Linked DNA regions of Homo sapiens: regions 2 and 3 are each linked to region 1. The links come from fine-mapping of genetic effects on gene expression. A gene starts in region 1. Each other region holds a variant in brackets. All regions are shown on one strand. Distances are from middle to middle.

Evidence for each region.
Region 2: its variant is fine-mapped to the expression of CD300E in whole blood (TOPMed, PIP above 0.99).
Region 3: its variant is fine-mapped to the expression of CD300E in whole blood (TOPMed, PIP 0.92).

The regions. Positions count from the first base shown.
Region 1 is chr17:74,620,648-74,625,871 of GRCh38, reverse strand. CD300E (CD300e molecule) reads left to right here and starts at 2,134. Exons shown (of 4, transcript NM_181449.3): 1 at 2,134-2,290. The coding sequence starts at 2,251. LOC101928343 (a long non-coding RNA gene) reads right to left here. Exons shown (of 4, transcript NR_158152.1): 4 at 1-345.
Region 2 is chr17:74,647,830-74,653,053 of GRCh38, reverse strand. No RefSeq gene overlaps it. Among named protein-coding and RNA genes, the nearest start is that of CD300E, 27 kb to the right of the region's middle. The variant C/A (reference allele first, on the strand shown) is at 2,134.
Region 3 is chr17:74,600,583-74,605,806 of GRCh38, reverse strand. It overlaps LOC101928343 (a long non-coding RNA gene), which reads right to left. Exons shown (of 4, transcript NR_158152.1): 2 at 1-1,957. Among named protein-coding and RNA genes, the nearest start is that of CD300LD, 11 kb to the right of the region's middle. The variant C/T (reference allele first, on the strand shown) is at 2,528.

The DNA of each region.
Region 1 (5,224 bases):
AACTGAAGCCTGCAACTGTTGTCTCTGCTGAATAAATGGCACAAGGGTTGCTATGGTTTGAATGTTCCCTCAGAAACTCGTGTTGAAACTTAACTGTCAATGTAATGGCATTGGGATGTGAGGTCTTTAAGAGGTGATTAGGCCATGAGAGCTCAGTCCTCCGAGTGGATTAATGCTGTTATCTCCGGAGTGGGTTAGTTATTGTGAGAGTGGTTTCCTGAGAGGCTGAGTTCAGTCCCCTTTTTCTCTCTGTCTAGGAGGCTTGCCTGCTGTCTTGTCTTCTGCCATGGAATGACGCTTGTCAGATGCCACTACGATGCTCTTGGACTTCTCATCTTCAGAAAGCTAGGAAGGTGAACAAATTTGTTCTTTTTTATTATTATTATTTGAGACAGAGTTTCTCTCTGTCGCCCAGGCTGAAATGCAGTGGCGTGATCTTGGCTCACTGCAACTTTCGTCTCCTGGGTTCAAGCAATTCTCCCACCTCAGCCTCCTGAGTAGCTGGGACTACAGGCTCATACCACCATGCAGGGCTAATTTCTGTATTTTTGTTAGAGACAGGGTTTTGCTATGTTGGCCAGGCTGGTCTGAAACTCCTGACCTCAAGTGATCTACGTGCCTCGGCCTCCCAAAGTGCTAGGATTACAGGCATGAGCCACTGCACCTGCCAACTTTTGTTCTTTATAAATTAGCTAGCCTGTAGTATTCTGTTATAGTAGAAGAAAATGGACTAAGACACAATGTTGTGGCTACTGTCAGCTCTGCTCATTCTGGATCCCTCAAGTGTGTGGCTCATGTCACACATGGGACCAGGGTCCTGGTGTTTTATTGTTCCATCCAGGGCTCTATTCTATATATAATCTATCTATCTTTCTTTCTTTCTTTTTCTTTCTTTCTTTCATCTTTCTTTCTTTTTTTTTTAGATGGAGTCTCTCTCTGTTGCCAGGCTGGAGTGCAATGGTGTGATCTTGGCTCATTGCTTTGCAACCTCCACCTCCTGGGTTCAAGTGATTCTCCTGCCTTGGCCTCCCAAGTAGCTGGGATTACAGGCACGTGCCACCATGCCTGGCTATATAATACTTCATCAGATATGGTGGTACAGAAAAGATAAGAAGTTGTGCTCTTACAACAAAAGTTTGAAATATCAGATGATCCAGTAGAGTTCTAAAAGATAGTAAAGATTAGAGGCTGTGGGTATCAAAGATGGGTATCTCTGGGGAAAGAGAAGGAAAGAAATTATATTTTCAGATAGCTATGTCTTAGAGAAGAGTATCTTCTGATGTGCAAGTTGGATTAGAGAGAATGTATAGCTAGTGGAGGGACCAGATGAGAAGCTATTTCAATGGTCCAGGACTATTCTAAAGGTATTTAATATTAACTGGGCAGTTACTATGTTCCAGGCACTGTATCAAGCACTTTACTTACATTAACTCATTTATTTCCTGTGGCAACCCTTTGAGAAAGAATTGTCATGAGTACTCTATTTTACAGATGAGGAGACTGAGGAGGAGAGTGATTTGGCAACATGCCCAAGGTCAGATGATTAATAAATGATGGAGATGAGATTTGAGTTTGTGTGACTTCAGAATCTATGCTGTTGACCATGACCCATATACTGAACTAGGTTAACAGTGTATAACCAGGTGGAGCTTCCCTATAGGAAGTTAGAAAGTAGGATCTGGAGCCCAGGAGAGATATTGGGATATTGGGTTAGAGGAAGAGGTGTGAAGTCATCCGCATGGAGATAACGGTTGAGAAAGACATGGGGAGTGATCACCACAGCTCCTTAAGTAGAGGGTGTTTTATGATTCAAAAGTAGGCAGCCATAGAGAAGGGAAGCTCCTTAGATCGATGAAGTAATCCCAGATAGGAAGAAGAGTGAAAGAGGCAGGGAACAGAGTTTTCTCTGTTGGAGAGGTTTCGTAAACTGGGACTGACTTTCATGAAATTCCGAGTCATGAAATCTCAGGGGGTGACTCAAACATTACGTTCACATTAAATGAAGGCCAACAGATTTTCCTGTTTGTGCTTGGTCCATTCTCAGAAACGTCTCTTGCCACCCTTTCTCTTCTGCTAAGTAAGGCTTAAAATTAGGAAGCATTCTTTAAAAGGCAAAAGAGGAAATAGATGAGTGAGAACACAAAGGAAACTTGGACAAGTAGAAAGTGGATGACCCAGGCTCCGTTACATATACTTGGATTCCAGCTGGGACCTAGATTTGCTGAGGACGGAAGCCAAGGAGACAGGAACATGTGGCTGCTCCCAGCTCTACTCCTTCTCTGCCTCTCAGGTGAGTGGGGCTGTGGCTTTGGGGACTTGGTTTTGCAGGGGGCAGGACAGTAGGTAGAAGAGCTGTCCTGGGTTCAAACCAGAGGTGAAGTGTCCACAGAAAAGGGAAAGATACATCCGTTCATTCACCTGTGCATCCTTCTATACATTCAATCATTCATCCACGGATCCTACAAACACTTACTGAGCACCAGATATGTGCCAGGACTGTTCTGGGTGCTGTAATTAAGAGTAACTTCTGAACTGAGGGAGTCAACTAACTACAATACAATGTGGAAATTACTGTTGTAGAGACTCATTCATGTGGTGATGAGAGTATGCAACAGGAACCCCTCACTTTGCTCTTGGAAGGGTGGGAGATGTCACTGAGGCTTCATTGGAAGTCCATCCTGCAGGATGAATGAGTTGGCTGAGTGGGAAAGGAATAGCTTATGTGCAAGTGTGAGGACATTAAAGACCATGGAGAGTTCAAGAATTAACAATAGTTCTGTTTTGACGAAGCTTAGTGTAAAGGGGTTGGAATGGTTTGTGAGAAATAATTAATGGGCTGGGCGTGGTGGCTCACGCCTGTAATCCCATCACTTTGGGAGGCCAAGGTGGGTGGATCACCTGAGGTCAGGAGTTTGAGACCAGCCTGGCCAACATGGTGAAACCCTGTCTCTACTAAAAATACAAAAATTAGCTGGGCGTGGTGATGCATGCCTGTAGTCCCAGCTACTAGGGAGGCTGAGGCAGGAGGATCGCTTGAACTTGGGAGGCGGAGGTTGCAGTGAGCCGAGATTGCACCACTGCAGCAGTCTGGCCTGGGTGATAGAGTTGAGATCCTGTCTGAAAAAAAAAAATGCCATCCTCAACATCTACCTTAAATCCTTCCCGGAACAAGGTGTGGTGTAAACAAGTAAATGAAACTGTCCTGCAAAGGTTGGACTTCAGAAGAGAAACTCTTATTAATAGACATTCAAAATACAAAACTGCAGGAAAACACATTTGTCTCTGGGGAAATAAATTTAGGCTAAAAATTAGAGGACATTCTTCATGTTTGCAGAATGAATTTTATGGTTGAGTTCCCTCACAAAACATAGAAATTGCCCAATGTAATGACAAGATTCTTTCTAGAAGGGTGAGTGAAAATGACAGCGATTTAAAGGAAGAAGACCAGGTAGGTGACATGGACCCAAACTCGTGGGCTCAAGCAATCCTCCTCTCTTGACCTCCCAAAGCACTGGGATTACAGGCATGAGCCACTGCACTCAACCAATGTTTGCTCATTTTGTATTTGAATTTGCTTCCTTTTTCTTTGCCCTTTCCATCTCTCTTTCCACCCCTATCTCATTCCCCATCCTCAGACTCGCAATGTGACCTGCGCAGGTCCCTCTGAAAATCTTAACTGGGAAAGAGAGATGGAAAGGGCAATTCTAGCAGGGAGGGGAAATGACAAAGAGGAAGGAAGCAAATTCAAATACAAAATAAGCAAACGTTGGTTGAGTGAGGTGGCTCACACCTGTAATCCCAGTGCTTTGGGAGGTCAAAGCAGGAGGAATGCTTCAGCCCAGGAGTTTGAGATCAGCCTGGGCAACATAGCAAGACCCCATTTCTACAAAAAAAGAAAAGTAAAAAATTTAAAAAGAGCAAAACTAGAATTCTATTTATTACACATTTTTATAACCTATAAACACTTCCAAATAGATGATAGAATTTAACCCTCTGAGCAGTTTTGTGACCCAGGCAGGGCAAATAGCATTGACTCCACTTTATAAATAAGATGATGAAGGGAGATCTGATGACATAAGAACTAAGTAGACAAGCTGGAAATGAAGTCCAGATCTGTGTCCTCCACAGAGCTCTTTCCATTGGCCATGGAGGTGTCAAGAATAAGGCTAACCTAGTAATAGTGACAAAATAGCTGACCTCTCTGCCACATCATCTGGTATTTCCATTCTGAACTGATTGCTGTCCAATATTTAGTAGCTCCCATTAACCTCAAGCAACCAGCAAGCACATGTTTCAACAAATGCACCGACGCATTTATATAATTCCATCAATTATTTCCAGGAACATGCTGGATTTCCTTGAGAAATGCTAATCTTGCATTCAGGTAACACTCTAGCAGGACAGAGGAAAGTATCTTGGAATTAGCATAACCTTCTTTTTCCTTAACTTCAGGTGCCCAGAATTAGATCATGGGTCATGGAACACTCTCTCATCACTGGTCCATTCAAGACCCTCTTTTATTTTAATTATATGTAACTTAACAAACATCTGTGAGCTCACTGGCCAATCCATGAACTAGAATGTTATCAACAGCATGGATCTACCCACTCCTTCCCAATCCAGTCCTGGTTCTTCTTTCAAACAACAGTAATTTGGTGTCATCTGCCAATACTTTGCATGAAAATTTGCTTTTGTTATATTTTTACATTAAGTAGAAAATTGGGCTAAGCAACCATAAGCCATGCTCTACATCTGAGGGTCTGTGATTTAATCAGCCACACCCCTTATCTCATCTTTTTCTTTCCTCTTCTTCTTCTTCTTTTTTTTTCGAGAGGGAGTCTGGCTCTGTCACCCAGGCTGGAGTGCAGTGGGGTGATCTTGGCTCACTGCAACCTCCGCCAATCAGGTTCAAGCAATTCTCGTGCCTCGGCCTCCCGAGTAGCTGGGGTTACAGGCGTATGCCACCACACCTGGCTAATTTTTGTATTTTTAGTAGAGACAAGATTTCACCATGTTAGCCAGGCTGGTCTCACCTCCAGTGATCCGCTCACCTTGGCCTTTATCTTTTTCTTTAAGCTCACCTATCCAGGCTCTCCCCTCTGCAAGTTGCCTTGCTTTACCTCCATTTTGGAGGTGGCTTTGCTTACTGGGCTTTAGATAGTACTCTTATCCACACTGCTGCCCTACCTCTGAAATATAAGTCTTTACAAGTGACTTCCTTTTT
Region 2 (5,224 bases), 27 kb before region 1:
ATACAGTAGCTGAATGAGTATTCTAGATAATATAGTTGTTACATGTATAAGGAATAAACATTCTACCAGGTGACCAAAAGAGCAAAGGAATAGGGAGAGATGGAAGACAAATCCTTATTTGAATGATGTAAAGTAAGAGACATAGGGAAGGAAAAGGGCTGGATCTAGGGCGAGGTGACAAAGGTGTCTACGGACAGTCACTCTCAGGGTCATGCCTGCACCTCGGGAAGACTCCTTAGATTTTGTGCCCTACGTGCCTTTTTTGCCTTGCTGTGGTCTGGACCATGGAAAGGAGAGAAGATGGGTAATAGAGGGAACTGAAGAAGAGGGATGGGGGTAATGTGGAGAGAGAGGAGAGGCTGGGGATGGATTTCAGTAAAAAGGAATCAAAGGAGAAGAAAAGAAGAGGGGAAAGGGGAAAGAAAAAAGTAAAGAGTAACTTTCAAGTTAGTGGTTCAACGTGGAAAGTTTTTAATTCAGAGAGAATATTTCTTTACACCTAATATTTTAGAAGTGGGAACAGATGGAAGGTCTTATTTTCATCTTCCTGCCCTAAAAATTAGGCCATAGGCAGGAAGAAAAATATTGCACCAGCAGGAAGAATATGACAAAGGACAGCGACTTATGATAGTCAGGTGTGTGTCAGCAGCCCCAGTGCAGCACAGCCAGGTTTGAAGTGAGGTCACCAGCAGTGGTTGTGGCTGAACCAGAGGGGAACCTACTTTTAAGACAAGTTATGAGAATGGGCTTTTGGTCCCATTTCCAGAAGGCCACATTGCGGGTGTCCTAGCTGCCTTGTGCTGTTCTATCAGCTATGGCATCAGGATCTGCCCGGCAATTAGTGGCTGTGGGACACACTAAATAAAGCCAGCCTTGAATAGTCTCCTGGAGTCTAGCACTGTCTGCCTTTTATACGCCCAGGCATTTCATAACCTCATTGTCAGTTCTGCAGTTTCCTACAGCATGAAGCAGAGAAGGGGAGATTTGGACTCCAGAGAGGGGCCATTGGGTAGGGGGCAGACACCCTGAACATTGCAATTATCTAGAATTGCTGTTTTGTCCAAAACTAATGGTTGTGCCTCCACACATAACTCAGACAGGGCTTTATTTCTCCTTCAGAGAGCTGGGAGAGAGTGTTGGTAGAATGGAGGTAGATGTTTGGTAGAAATAGAAGGAGAGAGCACTCATTTTTCTTAGGGGAAGGCTGTAAGTCTGGGAGGAGCTGGCCTCTGTTGCTCTATCATCTCCCTCTAGACAAATTACCCCATTACTGGCCAGGCACAGTGGCTCATCCTTGTAATCCCAGCCCTTTGGGAAGCCGAGGTGGGCAGATCACAAGGTCGGGAGTTCGAGACCAGCCTGGCAAAGAGACAAGCCTGACCAATACAGTGAAACCCCATCTCTACTAAAAATACCAAAGGTAGCTGGGCATGGTGGCAGGCGCCTGTAATCCTAGCTACTTGGGAGGGTGAGACAGGAGAATTGCTTGAACTCGGGAGGCAGAGGTTGCAGTGAGCTGAAGATCGTGCCATTGCACTCTAGCCTGGGCAACAGAGCGAGACTCCGACTCAAAAAAAAAAAAATGTACTCCTTTACTTTAGTGGACCAGTGGGGAAGGAGCAGAAAGAATAGGTGAGAACGTGAGCTTGAGTCAGGCCTCTGTGATTTATTATAAGTATTAGCTATTATTATTAGAAATACTTTCTTATAGTGTATAGCATGGACATTTAATGTGACATTGGATTGAATAACAGGGGATTGCATGCAAAGGGTTTGGTGTCAAGGGAGGTCTGATCTATAAACCCATGTGGTTAAGGTGGAAGGGACTGTCTCCTCTGCCTCTCCCGCTTCCTATTCCACCTTTCCCACCTTCCCTAACTATTTTCCTCAAGAACTACCCTCAGGTTGTATTTGCTGGTCTTCACCTGGCTTCCACTCCCACCCTCCACGGAAATGGCATTTGCAGAGATCACCAGTGCCCCTCCTGCTTCCAGACCCCAGGGCCATTCTCCTTTGCATGTTTTCCTGGACTTCCATGCTGGTGGGTACTCCGTCCTCCTCCAAACTCCAGCCTTCTTGGCTCCTGTGGCTCTGTGCTGTCTGGATTTTCCACCTATTTGCTTTTTTTTATAG[C/A]CATTTTCACTTTTCTTCCTGGATTCCTTGTCTTCTTTCCATTCTTTAAATTGTGTTTACGCCCAGTGTTCTGCCCTGCTTTCTTCTTTTCCTTCTATACACTCACTGGGTGATTTGCAGCCACTTTCATGATTTCAACTCCTGCTTAGGATCAGCGACTGCTCTTAGGCTCAGATATCCCCTAACTGCATGGCTGCAATTCAGTGGGGTGTGCTGCCACTTTCAGTGACCCTGGACACAATGGAATGGTCCAGGATTGGGCACTTGATGAAAGTCAGGCCAATCTCAGTTCTTCCCAGGCAGGGTTTCTTTTTACTTTTAACTGAGGCTAAGGAAGGAAGTAAGGCTTTCTCTGGGAATAAAACTCCTAAGATGGAAAACGTGAGAGGTGTCAGTGGCCATTTTCCCTCCTCCTGGAGAAAGCTGTCTCTAGGGTGAGAGAATAGAGCCCAGAGAGGACAAGGAAGAGAGAACCCAGGGGCTGTTTGATTGCCCGGTTCCAGTTGACCCCGACACCCAACAGGATCCTTGCCTTTCCCATGGATTTTCTTTGAATGATGGGTGATAGCCTCGTATTCCTCTAATGTATGTCCCCTTTTGCCTGAGTGTGTTCTAGGTAGGTTTATAGAACCGTGCCTTATCCTCTGGATAAATGATGACTGAACAGGCACAACGATGAGATACAGGCACGCAGTGTGTACTGAGAATCTATCACAGGCCCCGGTGCTTGGCTTGGAGCTGCAGGGAAGCCTTCTAAGGCATTTTTTTTTAATCCTGAAAGCACTGGCTTTCATTTTCCTTCTTATCTCCAGAGATGCCTCATGCTTTCAGCCTCATGAGACACAAACATCAATCAACATTAATCCTGAGATACCGCTCTGGGCGAGATATGACAGGATGCACTTTATCAACCTCTTAATGTAGTGTATGTTTCAGGTAGAAGCCAGACAGGACAGATTTTCCCCAATCTGTCAATTCCTACTACTGCTTCTTTTTGGAAAATCAACTCTGAATCCCACTCCCACAAAAAATCCGGGGGTTTTTAACTTGAAATCTTGGAGGTGAAAGGGTGCCAAGAAATTAGCTGATCCAAGGAAGATGGCCATGATGGAAAAAAGGGGACAATTTGCACCATAGGATCTCAATTTCAGAAAAAAGATACACACCCAGGATAAACAGGAAAGAATTGTCACCAGAATGTTTGCAAAAAGATAATGAAGTTGTGGTGATACTTGTTTTCTCTCTTCCGGATCTTGCAAAATTTCTATAGTCAATATATGTTACATTTGAATCAGGAAACAAAAAATAAATAAAAAAATTAAAGTTATTCTCTTTCTTAAGCTGGGTGGGGGCACATAGGTGTGCATTTTATTATTCTTTATAACTTACAGGTCGTATATACTCTTTGTAGAAAATATTTAATACTCTAATTTTTTTGGTTGCAGAAACTCTTGTTGAAATAAAACGTAATCTGGAGGCCAGGCACAGTGGCTCACGCCTGTAATCCCAGCACTTTGGGAGGCTGAGGTGTGTGTTTCACTTGAGGCCAGGAGTTCAAAACTAGCCTGGCCAACATGGTGAAGCCCCGTCTCTACTAAAAATAAAATGTAATCTGGAAGCTGCATTAAGTGATGCAGGGGTGGTCCTGGGGGCCGGCTCCCTGGTTCTCCCCTCCAATGCCCAGAGACAACCCTATGCACAACCAGGACCTCAGGTGAGAACAGTGACGTCTGGTGCCCCAGGTGAGTGGTGAACTGGGACTAGAATCCGGTCCTTCTAACATCTTGCCCAGCTTTTCCCCCATTCGTTGCCTCTCTTCACTCAAGTTTCCTTCTTGATTTTTCCTTCTTTAAACTCATCAATGCTCAAGGCCTAAGGGATAAAACTAATGCTACATTCCTCTTCCCTGATGTTCTGTATTCACTCATTTTCTAGGATTTGTCCTTAAAATTTGAGTTTTTATTTTGATAGATGGCGAATGGCAGGAAAGGAGGAGGAAGAGGGTGACGGAGAGGTGAGGAGAGAGGGCTAGGGGCTGCCTGCAACTTCAGCCTGGTGGCTTGGTTGCCTGGTGGCCCCAACGGTGGGTTCTTGGATCAAGTGTGGTGATGTTTTCTGGCTGCTGCTGGGTCAGATGGGAGCCAACTGTTCCCAGAGGCTAAAACCACAAACAGGACAGTCCATGGAGGCTCCGTGCCCCTTAGGGACCTAGAATCCTGACGGGTCTAGCTGAGGGCTCTTGGCATGGCTGGCCAGGAAGAGGGAACTTGTTTCTGATTCTCAGCAGGCAGAATCCTGTGGATGAAGTTATTCTGTCTCTATCGATATGAGCTCTGGAGCAGCTCAGCTCTGGAGCTGTGAAAGCCTGGCACACGCACACCCACCCTCGCTTCCCTCTCTCATCAGCCATCACTCTTCACTCAGTACTCAGTGGCTGTGATAGCCCAGGAGGCCCAAGCTCAGCCCCATCCTTCTCAACTCACTTTTCCAGGCACACCTCCAACTGATTGGAGGGGACAAAAGTACATTTTTCCATCCCTGGGAAATGCAACGTGCCAGGCACTATCACCCACTGGATGCTAGGTTTCAGCTTCAGGCGAGGCAGTGAGAACCCTCCTCAGCTGCTACCCTCCCCTGCCCTCCCCTCTCCCTCCTTCCCCATGGGATCTGTAGGGCCCGCAGCTCTGCATTGGCTTTGCTCAGACACACCAGCCTCAGGGTGCAGCTGCTATGCACTGGGGGACTGCACTGCCTCTCCTGTCACTGTGAGTCCTGGCATCTTAGTTCTCAAACATGCAGTTGAGTCAAGAAGAATGATGGCCATTCCTTCATCTCCTGACTTTTAGGATCTGGGCTAAGCTAGGACACAAACCAGGCTCAGAAATGAGGCTTTGGCTCCTGGCACCCACAGCTCTGGATTTGCAGGACAGATAAGACACGGAGCCTGCCCCGGAGCTCTTTCAGCCAGCTTCCCCACAGACAGCAGTTGGAGCTGCTGGGCCAGGCTTTGCTGGGTCCATTTAGCTTGGGGCATCTGAGAGGGGACGGTGGTGTCCTTTATCTCCAGGACTCCCACAGAGCCAGTGGACTC
Region 3 (5,224 bases), 20 kb after region 1:
ATCTGAGACCTGCTGCCTCATATCACCCACATGTTTAATATTTGGTCTAGCTAAACGAGTGGGTTCTGGGGAGTCCCCATCAGCGTGTAAGAGTCTGATTCCCCAGTCTTATTCCTCATCCACTCCCCTACACCCAGTGCCAGGGCCCTTTCCCTCAGGCCATCCCTGTTCTCTCCCCGAAGCTGGCCTCCAGCCCAGGGCATGGAAGCAGTGATGAGTCATGTGAATTTAACTCAGAGTTTTCTTGAGTGAGAGCAGGCCTGCCATATTGCACATCCTAAAAATACCCTTTAAACCACTGTGTTCTTCTTGCAAGTTCCACTCCCCGTGGAGCCGCCGCACCCTTGGTCTCTTCCCGCCAAGTTTCCCCTTGTGCCTCTCCCGTCTCGCTAGAAGTCCTGGCACTGCCATCCCCACTCAGCAGAACAACCGCTCTGCAAACAGTGGAGCGAGACGAAGGCCAGGTCAGGAAGCATCCCCAGTGCCTCGCCTCTTCCGGACTCCTAGGGAACACAGGATCGGTGCTGGCAGGCTCCAGGGAACAAGACCCTTTGAAAGGAACGGAGTTGGGCTGGAGAAGGGAGCCGGTGGAGCAGGGAAGGCAGGATCCAGGGAGAGAATGGGCCTTGACCCTGGACTTTGAGGGATCCTGAAGCACCAGGCTGTGATGGGGTTAAACAGGGGCAGCCGCATTTGCGCGGTGATGAGACATCCTATTGATCCCTCGAAAGGAGGTGGGCTTCGGATTGATGTCCACACCCATCTACCATGCTGGGAATGTGAAAGAAAAGCAAGAGGCCCAGCTTCCCGCTCTCCCGCCCTGCCCTTCCCTAGCCTTGGCTGGAGAGTTGGAGCGATGGGCACACCCCTGCCTGTGACTGTGGTAGGCAGAATAGTGAACCCCACCCACGATGTCATAACCCCAAAGCCTGTGAATATGTTTTATTACATGCAAGGGGGAATTAAGGCAGTGGGTGGATTTGAGACTGCTCGTCAGGTGACCCAGGGTGGATTATCCTGGATCATCTGGCTGAGCCCAGTGGAATCACCAGCGTCCTTATAAATGAAAGAGGGAGGCAGGAGAGACAGTGGAGCGATGCTCTGTGGGAGACTCCACCGACCTTTGCTGGCTTTGGGTAGGAGGGGGCCATGAGCCAAGGAACACGGGTGGCCTCCAGAAGCTGGAAAAGGCAAGGGAACAGGCCCTCCGCTGGAGCCTCTAGAAGGAACCAGCCCTGTTAACACCTTGATTTCAGCCCAGTGAGACCCATTTCAGACTTCTGGTCTCCACAGCTGTATGATCATGAGACTGTGTTGTTTTAAGCCACAAAGTTTGTAACGATCAGTTACAGCAGCCACAGGAAAGCCACCCAGACAGCTGCCCTTCCAGAGCACCCAAAGCTTCACCTCGCTTTTGCCTCCTGGGGCTTGAGGGACTCGGTGAAGCATGGAGCCCAGAGCCTGCTCTCTGGAGCTCAGCCTGTTGCAGCTCATCAGGGAGAATCTCCTGCAGTGCTCAGGTGTAGACAGGGAGGGGAAGGCCCACTACAGACTTCACTGTTTCTCCCCTGACGAGCGCCACATGAGGGTCCCTGGTGAGAGCATCTGAAGGAGCAGTCATGGGGCAGCCTAGGGAAAGGTCTGTGGGAGCCCAGCTCTGCTCACCTGGTGAGGGGGCTGGTAAGAGCCGTGGGCTGGGTGCTGTTGGTGCTCTGGGTGAGAGAAGGCCAGGAGGCCAGAACTGTTGGAGTGGTTGTTCTCATAGGTTCTGCTGTGTCTGCTGTCCCAGGTGAAGCTGGGTCTGCTGTTCCAGGCACAGCTGTGTTCCTTTTCCCAGGCACAGCTGTTTCTGCTTTTCTAGGTACAGCTGTGTCCATTGTCCCAGGCCCAGCTGTGTCTGCTGTCCCAGGTGCAGCTGCGTCTGTTGTCTTAGGTTCAGATTGTTTTCTTGGAGTTGCTGTGGGACATGCAAAGGATAGTTTTGAGGGTGACCTAGGTGGCTTCCCCGTGGCTCACGTCACCTCTTACCCCTCCAAGGATCGTGAAGCATTTAGTCTTAGCACTACAGTTGTTTTGTTTTGTATCTTTTTGGTATCTTACCTAAAATGTAATATTATTTCACTTACAAACAAACATCACTGCACCACCTGGGAAGGACTTGTGGCGAGAAGCTATGCAGGCAATTTACAAATATTCAACTTAGTCCCAGAGTCCTGCGTTGCACAGCTGAGCGTTGAGAACCACACTCTGCTTCCCTGAAGTTCTACATCAGAGCCAGCCAGCCCTTCTCTTGAGTCTCAGCCTGGGCTCCAGCAGGCTGTTTGTTGCCTGCTGTGTAGCAAAGTGACCCTCAGAGCCAGCTGCCCCTCCCTGGGCCCTGCCTGGGGACTCAGGACTCCTCTCCCCTGCAGCTGGGCAGAGCATCTGTTTCCAGCTGAAGTTTTCCTGCCTCCCCAAAGCTTCCTTATTTCACTAGGCTTGGAGGGTTGCAGCCTCCGACTCTCCCCCAGCTCCTCCTTTCCTTCCA[C/T]TCATGCCTTTGTTCTCTTTTTAAGTCAATTTCTGAAACATTCTAAAACCAGACTTCCCCACTGCACACACACACAGGCACACCACATCCGCATATACTAAGCTGAAAAGGACTTTTCCCTGCCTTGTAAATGGGCCCACAAGTAACAGATATATGATTGAGCTGCAGCATCTATGCATGTGCATGGGGAGCTGACAGTTTCTCTGGTGCCCACGGCGGAGATGACACTGATGGCTCTGGGGGCTGGGCTGTGGAGTGAGGATGACAGCCGGACTCTCTTTCTAGGAGCCCCCTGTTGTGAGTTCTCAGTATCCTCAAAGGCTCGGGGCAGCCAGGGGAGGCCTGTGGGAGGGCTCTGCACTATGCCGGGTTCTGTTTTTCCCTCTTTCAGGAATGGGTCAGAGTCTCCCATGCCTTCCTTTGTCCATATGTCACCAGAGGTGGGAGAGGACGAGAGAGAGGTGGCTCCAAGGAGAGGGTCACCAATGGGCTCTTGGTCACTACATGCTTGTCCTGGAGCTGAGACTTCTGGGATTGCGATTTTCTTGCATTCCCCTCCCTGTACACCTGACAAGTCCTCCCGTCAGGCTGGGGCTGCTCTGAGGGGGCACGGGTTGCCCCAAGTGACTTGCAGAAGAGAACCTGCCTTCTTTCTTACCCTGCACTGTGCCTGCCCAAGCTGACCCAGTTCTGCTTGGCTCCCTCTGATAATAGCAGATAGAGACATACAGAGATACTGAGGCTTGCTCTGTCTTCCAGTCTTTCCAGAATCTTGGTGTAACCCCTCCCCCCAAACACACACACATGCACATGCACACACATAGGCCCACAAACACAGACATGTACACACAGACACACACGGGCCCATTCGTACACATACATCTATGCACAGCACACATATAGACACGGGCAAGCCCAGGCACACATACACAGGCACACACAAGCACACACAAGCCCATGCACACACGTAGTCCCAGGACAATGTCAAGACAGCATCACTGAATCCTCTCGGGTCAGCACCAGAGTTTGGTACAGGAGGGAGCTGCTCCGACCTGGGTAAATGGTCACTTCAACTTGGACCCCAAGGTCAGTGCCTGTCCTCTCAATCCCACACCAGTAGGTGTCAGTGTCGGACCTCCAGAGCATCTTCATGGTTATGGTGAACACACGGTTTTTCTTTTCTTTTCTTTTTTTAAATTTTATTATTATTATACTTTAAGTTTTAGGGTATATGTTTCTGATCGTCCCTGATGGACACTCGGTCTCTCTCCGCTGTCTGCTCTGATCCTGTGATTGTAATGAGGATTTTGCAGGACTGCCAGTCCTTCCCGTGGCACCACTACTTGCTGTAGGTCTCCCAGCCTTGGTCATAATGACACTGCACTGTCAGTGAGTCCCATTCTGTGCCCCACACAGCTCTAGGACCATAGATGGAGAAATACTCTGGAAGACAGAACCCAACGTCCAGATCTTCCCTCCCTGGGCACTGCCCAGGGCTTCCGGCACCTCCCTGGGGACCAACCAGGAGCCTTTATCCTCAGCCCCCAAATTGTCAAATTCTCACATCCATTTGTTCCTTAATTCCCCGGCAGTATTTCTTTTGTTGTCACCCCTCTGACAAAGTTCTCCTGAGGGCTCCAACTGCCCAACACAGTGGTCTGTTCATGCGCCATCCTAGCGACCACTGAACACCCTCTCATTTTGGAAACCTTCCCTCCTTTGCCCTGAGGTGACACCCACTTCCCCACCAATCCCTGGCTCTCACTGCAGCCACCAGTTTATTTTATTTATTTATGTATTTATGTATTTATTTGGAGACGGAGTTTTGCTCTTGTTGCCCAGGCTGGAGTGCAATGGTGCGATCTCGGCTCACCGCAACCTCCGCCTTCTGGGTTCAAGCAATCCTCCTGCCTCAGCCTCCCGAGTAGCTGGGATTACAGGCATGCGCCACCACGCCCGACTAATTTTGTATTTTTAGTAGAGACAGGGTTTCTCCATGTTGGTCAGGCTGATCTTGAACTCCCGACCTCAGGTGATCTGCCCTCCTCGGCCTCCCAAAGTGCTGGGATTACAGGTATGAGCCACCGCGCCCGGCCAGCCACCGATTTATTTTAAAATCCCAGAGCTGAACAGGTAGACATCCTGGCTTCCCCCAACTCCTCCGCCCACTGGCACTGCACCCCACACCCCTAAAAACCCTCTCCTGTGAGTCTGCACATGTGATAAAGTTTCATGGAACCAAACACACCCACACCCCCACACACACACACACCCCCAACACTCACACACCTGTGCACACACTCAGTGCACAGTTGTTTTTCTTTGCCTAAGCACCATGCTATTTTTGTCTCCATACCTTTGCACAAGTTGCTCCCTTTGCCCAGGAAGTTGTCTCTTCCTTGCTTGATGGACTTAAGCCCTTATTCCCCTCCCTGAAGGGTTGGTTCAGCCCCGCCCTGGTGCCACCAGACCACTTTGTATCTGTCTCAGTTGTTGTACTTACAACCTTGAACAATGGTCTGGTCTTTGGCTCGTCCAGAGCAGAAGCTCAAGCAGGCTGATGTGTGGGGTTGACTTACATTCCAGAGAGCGATGACATCCTTGCCTTATTGCCTGTCTTCCTCCCTGTAACTCTGAGCTGCTCCATTTTAGCTACAACTCATGACAAGCTGTGGAGGCTTCTAAACTAGCCAGATG